Homo sapiens: one gene and its partner. The protein of the gene in region 2 interacts with the protein of the main gene of each other region in a biochemical or structural test. Each region holds a gene or a part of one and is shown on either strand. Other genes may lie near its edges. The genes, in order: SSTR3 and SST.

Region 1 (3,909 bases), on a different chromosome or scaffold from region 2:
ACCTGGGAACCCCCGGGGGCCCCTACTCCAGCCATAAGACCCAACATGAGCTTCCTTGGGGATTGGGTGGCTGACCTCAGCAGGGGCAGAGCCAGGCTTTGGGTGGCCTAAGCTTATGCAGTTCGAGGTCCCTCTTTAAGAAAACGAATACAAAATGACAAGTACAAAAGTAGATGCAGGGCCTTGCAAAAGCCCAGGCAGTGAGAGACCCTGAAGCTGGACTTCATTCGCTTCCATGAGCAGGAAATTCACCTGCTCTTCCCGTCCAGGAGCACAGGACCTCCAGCATTGACTGCCTGGGCCAAAAGGGTGTAGAGGTTGTTGGGTTTTACCCAGGTGAAGCCTGAGGCCTAGAGAGGAGCAGAGCTGGTCCAAGGCCTCACAGTCGAGGGGAGGGAGCTGATCTGGGGCCTGACCATTTCTGCCCCACTCCTCCCACCGGGTTAGGCTTTCTTCTGTTTAGGTTTCCAGCCCAGCCCCCAGCAGCTCCTGTGTTCCTGACTCTGAGCCCAAGAAATCCTGGCCTTGGTTTATCCCTCTGAGGGCCAAGATTCTAGTTGATGCCCCAAGACACTCCATCCCTGGGGGGAGGCCAGTCTGCACCCACCTTTTGCCTGCTCAGCCAGGTCAGCCCAGCAACAGTGCCCTCCAAACCTCTCATCTGACATAGCTCATCCAGGCTGATGACTCCTATCCCTGAGTCACAGAGGAGAAAACAAGGCCCAGAGAGTAGAAGCAACCTACCCAAGGTCACACAGCAAGACCTGGCAGCAATAGCATCAAAGTCCAGGCCCCTCAACATCCCATCATGGGCCTGTGGCACCTTGGGAAGTAGGCCCTAGGCACACCCACGGCTTCTGCCTCTTCCTCGGGCCATCCTGGCTTTCCCCAGGCCCCTACAGGTAGCTGATGCGCATCGTGCTGGACTTCTCCCCAGTGGAAGCCTCTTGGGGTAGGAGCTGCTGCTCCTTGCTGGCCACTCTGCTGGGCGGCCGCTCCTGCCCGCTGGTGCCAGGCTGCGTGATCTGGCTGACCCGGCCGTTCATCTCCTTCCCCTTGCCCCCCTCCCTGCTCTCCTCCCCATCCTCCTCCTCCTCATCCTCCTCCTCAGTCTTCTCCGGGGGCCCCACAGTGGGCTCCTGGCTGCGCACACGGCGGGAGGGCCGCAGCAGGACCCTGCGGAAGCCCTGCTTGAAGCGGTAGGAGAGGAAGCCATAAAGGATGGGGTTGGCACAGCTGTTGGCATAGGGCAGCGCCACCACCAGGAAGTAGAGCCCAAAGAAGGCAGGCTCCTCGGGCAGTGGGCACACCACGTTGACGATGTTGAGCACGTAGAAGGGCATCCAGCAGAGCACGAAGAGCGCCACCACGGCCACCACCATGCGCGTGACCCTGCGTTCGGAGCGCCGCCGCCGCTGGCACGAGGGTGCCCACACCCGGCGCCCAGCTGAGCGCACCTTCACCACGATGAGCAGGTAGCAGAGGCAGATGACCAGCAGCGGCCCGAAGAAGCCCAGTGCGGCCGTGTAGATGATGAAGCCGGCTCGCCAGGCCGCCGCCGGCTCGGGCCACTGCATGTGGCAGGTGCTCATGCCGCGGGGCACTCCCGAGAAGACCACCACGGGCAGCACCACCACGGCTGAGGCCACCCACACAGCCGCGCTGACCGTGCGGGCCACCGGAGCTGTGCGCCAGCGGGCCGAGCGGGTGGGATGTACCACGGCCAGGTAGCGGTCCACGCTCATGACAGTCAGGCAGAATATGCTGGTGAACTGGTTGATGCCATCCACCGCCATGACCAGGCGGCACATGAGGGAGCCGAAGGGCCAGTAGGACAGGGCGTTCTGGGCGGCCAGGAAGGGCAGCCCCAGCATGAAGAGCTCGTCGGCCAGCGCCAGGTTGAGGATGTAGACGTTGGTGACTGAAGGGCTGGCCGTGTGCCGCAGGACCACATAGATGACCAGCGAGTTACCCAGCAGGCCCACCACGCACACCACCAGGTAGACCAGGGGGATCAGAACGCCACTGACGGCCAGCCCTGCCGGGCTTGGGCCCGCCGACACGTTGCCCAGGGTGGCATCTGGGGGCCAGGCCGAGGAGGCATTCTCAGGTTCTGAGGTCGTGGACACCGATGATGGATGAAGCATGTCCATGGCTGAGGGGAGGGTGGTCAGCAGTCAGCTATTTGCCTGGGGGAAGGAAAAACAGCTCGGTCACAGCAGAGAATGGCTTTCTCTGTGCTGCCCCCTCCCATCATGCCGAACCTGGGGACCTGCTGCACGCCCATCCTCCCATCGTCTGAGAGATTTCAGAAGATGGGAGGTGCTTAGCACGCACCATCTCATTCACCCCGCACAGCCCCGCAAGGCTGAGTCGTGTTATCCCCTTTTCTCAGATGAGGAAACTGAGGCTCAGGGAGGTGAGGTGATCATTCTCCATCGTGGAGTGAGGGTGTGGTGTGTGGCATGAAGTCATACTGTTTCACCAACAAATACCTGCCCTTCCTTTCTACATGTGAGGCCCCAGCTGGCAGGGCCCTGTGAAGTGGGTTGCATTGCCACCAACAGGTCTCGCCCTCACATCTGAAAAACACTGCTTCATATCACAGGACCTTCACCTGGAAACCTGCTCCCTAGATGAACTTCAGAGGATCCATGAACGCCCTAAACTCCAGGTGAAGGTTAATGTCAGATCTGTTATCAGATTCTTCAGGTTCCAAATGGAGTTAAGAACCACAGGCTTGGGGTGTCCCCTCCCCTGGGAGTCAGAGTCCTTAGGTGCCCCCTCAGCCTGGGCCATCCCACTGTGCCCCTCCCAAAGGCCCTGCCCAGGAAGGTTGGCTGTGAACCTGGGGGGCAGGTGGCTGAGGCCCCTTCTCCCCAGAGGCCGGCTGGGGTTGGAGAACTTTACAATTCACTTAGCAGATGCTATCCAAGAGTAGTCCCTCCCCCTGGCTGGAGGGGCCAGCTGCCTGGAAAAGGGGACATTTTCAGAAGGGATTTGCAGCATAAGCAAGAGCCCCCCCGCACTCCAGGTGCTTTCTTAGTGTCTTTCTCATCCCATGCCTGCGCAGAAGAAGCTGGGGCTCCTCTGGGCTCCCCTGCGAGACTCTGATCCCCTCCCCTGTGGAGTCTCCAGCCAGCTTTGGACCCTCCCCATTGCTTTCTGCCCCATCACTTCCGCACAGGCACGAGCTCTGCCTCAGTGTCAGGCATCAAATGAACCAGAGAAGCCTTCAGTGGACCAAGCCCAGTGCCAAGGGGGAATGTCAGGCCCCACTGAGGAAAGCCACGCTCAGGAGGAGGCCCAGGCAGAGCCAGGCTGGATGCAGGAGCCTCCTCTGGGGTCTGGACCACCCACTGCACCCCCTCTTCCTAATGATCCCCCAATCCCCTGGCTCCTGGCTGTCCTTGGATTCTCCCTGCAGAAAACCCTGAAGGGAAGATAAATCTCTCAGAGGAGAAGCCCTTCTTCTAATATCCCTGACACTGGGCCTGCACTTCCTCCCTCCAATGGGAGCTGTGGTCCGCACTGCCCTATATGGATGTCACTGTTGATGTGCAAAGCTCCTGGGAAGGGAAGGCACCCCAAATCCAAACAAACGCCTCTGAGCACGCCTGGCTACCCCTGCCCCAAGGACCTGGGGCTGCAGCGGGCTCAGAGTGCCAGGCTGGGTGAAGCCAAGGGTAGCAAGGAACCCCTAGGCCGTGGCTTCTCCAGCTGGCTGGGTTCAGAGCATCTCCTCCCTGTTCTTGGGGCTGGGAGAAGAGAAGGATTCTGAGCCTGGGTCATCCCCTAACCTGTCCTCAACCCATCCTTCTCCCCAACCCTTCATCAGGTCTCCTGAGCCTGGGACAGCAGCACTAAGGGAGGGGCACCTGGACAGTGGGCTAGAGGATCCTAACAGTG
Region 2 (3,909 bases):
TGTAATTAATGTTTATGTCAGCCTCTCCCAGTAATTATCATTGAATTAAAGTTTGAATGCATAGAGTTATGTGAAATTATTTCTGTTTAAAATGACTCATGTTATAATAGTTATCATTTAAAATGTAAACTTTATTGCCACCGAGAATTTTAAATAGATGTTTGTGAACATTGGAGTACCTATCTCAAATAACTTTACTGAAACCGCCACTCAAGCTTATTATGTATTATTGAACAAAAAGATTTACTCAATAGAAACCAAATTCACATTTTTCATAATTTCACCATAATTTTATTTTGTATTTACAGTTTTCAGTTTCTAATGCAAGGGTCTCGCTGAAGACTTGGAGGATTAGGGAAGAGAGATGGGGTGTGGGGGCGAGGGATCAGAGGTCTGATATGGACAATACTAGTTAAGAAAGCTAACAGGATGTGAAAGTCTTCCAGAAGAAATTCTTGCAGCCAGCTTTGCGTTCTCGGGGTGCCATAGCCGGGTTTGAGTTAGCAGATCTCTGCAGCTCAAGCCTCATTTCATCCTGCTCAGCAGCCTGGGACAGATCTTCAGGTTCCAGGGCATCATTCTCCGTCTGGTTGGGTTCAGACAGCAGCTCTGCCAAGAAGTACTTGGCCAGTTCCTGTATAGGGCAGAAGGGATAGAAAAAGAGAGAAAGAGAAGTGGGGAGGACAATGGAAAAAATTTGAAAAGCCTAAATTAAAGAACAGATTTGGTCACACACAAAATCCAGTTTTTACAGCTGCGCATTTTTTGTCACATTTAAAATCAATCAAGGATATAAAAATAAGGATAGTTGCTATAATTACCAAGTTACACAAAAAGGCTTTAAGAGCTCAAATGTTTCTGCAACCTTTCTGTCCCTGTAGACTTAACACACACACACACACACACACACGCACAAACACACACACACACACACACACACACATAAAGACCGTTCTGGTAAGATAAAGTGTGTGCCAACAGTTTAATTCAATTTTCACATCACGAGCTACAAAGTAGAATTGTTTTACCATTTTTACCAAGTAAACTGTAGGGGAACGAGACTTCTCACAATCTCAAACATACGGCGTTCGGTCTTTAGATTGCCCCTTTGCCCTAGTCCCGACGTTTGGAAGTGAGGTACGCTAAGAGGTAGCAGCTTCAGAGGTCTGCGTTTCAGCACCTGGGTCAGCGCTTCCCAGGGTCAGCACCAGGGATAGACGCCATTGTCGCTTCGTGCCCAGACAACTACCCAGATTTTGTAATTTTCTTGAATGCCAAGTAAGAACTCACCTGAACTGTGACCGACTGCGCTTATCATGGGGGAAAAAAAGAGTTAGAAGGGGATTCTAGCCTTTGATAGTTTTCTCAAGAGCTTCGGGAGCTGAGGGACCCAGAAAAGCACCAAAACTCTTTAGAAGGACTGAGCATCCCTTACGTCCAAACCAATGGGGCAGGAGCAAGGCTTAGGGAGGGCTGGAGAATCCGGGAGACGTCGAGGGAGTCTCCTTACCTGCTTCCCCGCGGCAGCAGCCAGGGACTTCTGCAGAAACTGACGGAGTCTGGGGTCCGAGGGAGCGCCGGTGACACAGCCCAGGGCCAGGACGATGGACAGCGCAGCCAGCGCGCACTGGAGGCGGCAGGACAGCATCTCGGCGCCGCGAAAGCCGAGCTGGAGAGTGGCTGGTCAAACTCTAGGCGCGGATCAGCAGGCAGCAGCGATGGCTCCGAACCTCGCTCCTAAAGCGGCTTGTGTGCTCTCAACCGTCTCCCTCTGTTTTAAACTCTCTCTCTGACGTCAGGCTAGGAGGCGCCCCCAGATCTCACCAGCCCTTTTACGCACCATTAGCCTCGCAAAATCAATCACAGAAGACAGGGGAGGTGACAAGATCTAAAGTGGCTTACTTAAAAAAAAAAAAATACTGCACACGCACAGGCACACACAATTCCACATGCCCCACGATTTATACAATCTTTTATTTTCACTCAGTGCTATGAGCATACACATTCCACAATTTCACTCCCACACATGCACACTCAATTACACACAAACAGAGGCTCAAACACTCAGCTCTTAAAGAGCAAATACACTATCACCCTTAAATGCACACAAATGTACCCAGACAACTCCATCTGTCATCATACTCTAACATTTTAGGAAGGCCCAACAAGCAACAGGGCATGTGTATGGTAGGTGGAGATCAGAATCATTCCTCTAATAACAGATTTGAGAATGAAATATGGACAGTAGAAGGACTGAGCCCTCTTTATTTCCTCCATTATCTCATAAAAAGCCTTGAAGATGTAACGGGGCTCTAAAAGAACTTCACTTTTCTCTACAATGGGGGAGAAGGTACCTCTGGCTCACCCTCCCTCCCTCTTTCTCAGCAACTGAGACTTCTGATCTACCTGCCTTTCTATTGTGACCATATATATGTATGAGTGTGTGTATATGTACGGGAGGGAAAGAGAGAGAGAGAGATTGAAATGGACTTCATTTTGGTGCTGAGAAATTTAGAGCTGGAAGGCAATCTAAGAAATTATTCAATAAACCTCAGAATTTGAATCAGTAAGGCAGAGTAATGGTCAGTAAATTGTTCTCCTTCACATACTGCACACTTTGAGCAAAACCAGACCTCCACATTCCAAAGCCAGTGTTCCTTCTACTGAGCTCTGAGTTTTCTAACAGATTCCTGGCCGGTAAGCATAGTTTTATGTCAGGAAGCCCCAGTTTAGACATATAAGGTCTAGGAACTCCCAGAACATATGTGACCACTATTGTATATCTATATGTGGAAAGGATCAAAAGATTCTTGGTTAAATTCAGCTCTGCCTGATCTCCTAGAAACAAAGAAAGTTTAAGAAAACCTGTCCTTGAATTCTGATTGAACTCTGGTTAAATGTTTACTGTTCAGGCCAGAGTTCTGACTGCTTTTATCTAAATAGTTCCTTACTGAGGAAGGACCAGCTAATTTCCTAGCATGGACGAGATGATCCCTACAGGATCTTTAAGAGCTGTTATCTTATGAGCTTCAAAAAAGCCAATATTAGCTAAAAAGATATGCTGCATCTCTGGAAACCATGCGAAGCTCATATTAGGTATTAAAATATTCTCAGTACTTAGACCCGAACCACAGTGTTGAGAGGCAGAAGGGTTTGGGAAGTATCCTGAATGGCTTGAATAATTGTCACTATTTCTTTTTGTGCTTGTAATCCAAGGCAAAGCGGAAATGCACAGCAAGAAGTGTTAAAGTTTCCAGGTCTTGACAAGGCCAGCCAAGACTAAGCACAAAGTGGGGCATTAAAAAGTCATTCACATGTGTTGGAGTAGTCTAAGAGATCAATGAATCTGGAGCTGTGGAACCCAGTCCTAGGAAATACATGTTATATTCTCTAAATCTTGCAACTCTCTCTGGCCTCTAAGGACTCAGAGTTTAGTTCTATCACTGTGACTGTCTCTAGGTACCTCCAAATGATCTCATATCTCCTGTACCCAGGATGTGGTCTTTGGCATACCCACTGAGTAGGAAACGAGGATTTTTCCAAAGCAGGAGCCAGCCGAAGAACAAATAGCAGCTCCCCATCTTCCCCTGTGCTCTAGGATCTCTTCTGTCTCCTTCCCCAGACGCTTGCTCCCCTCCTTCCACATCCTTGTGCTCTCCCTCTACACTTTCTCCTCCTTCTTATTCCTCCTTTTCCTTAACCTTTCTGCAAATTTATGTTTCAGAATTTTCCTCACTCAATCCTTCTTTTGTCTCCTCTCTTGACTCTGTATCCTCATTCCTTTGTTTTTCTTGCTCTTCTCAATCATTTTCTGACTTTGGTTTGGGTCAGCCCGGCTCTTTCCCTGCCTTCTCACCCTGCTTAGCCAGTGCCTATCCCAGTCTCTGCCTCAAGACATCTCTCCCTCTC

What was found.
Region 1: the proteins of SST (region 2) and SSTR3 interact in a test that uses a peptide from one of them, tested with the Homo sapiens proteins (one study listed by BioGRID).

The regions. Positions count from the first base shown.
Region 1 is NC_000022.11:37,205,651-37,209,559, forward strand, and holds part of SSTR3 (somatostatin receptor type 3), read right to left. Parts: intron 2,190-3,909; 5' UTR 2,154-2,189; coding exon 897-2,153; 3' UTR 1-896.
Region 2 is NC_000003.12:187,668,644-187,672,552, forward strand, and holds SST (somatostatin preproprotein), read right to left. Parts: upstream 1,752-3,909; 5' UTR 1,649-1,751; coding exon 1,511-1,648; intron 635-1,510; coding exon 422-634; 3' UTR 269-421; downstream 1-268.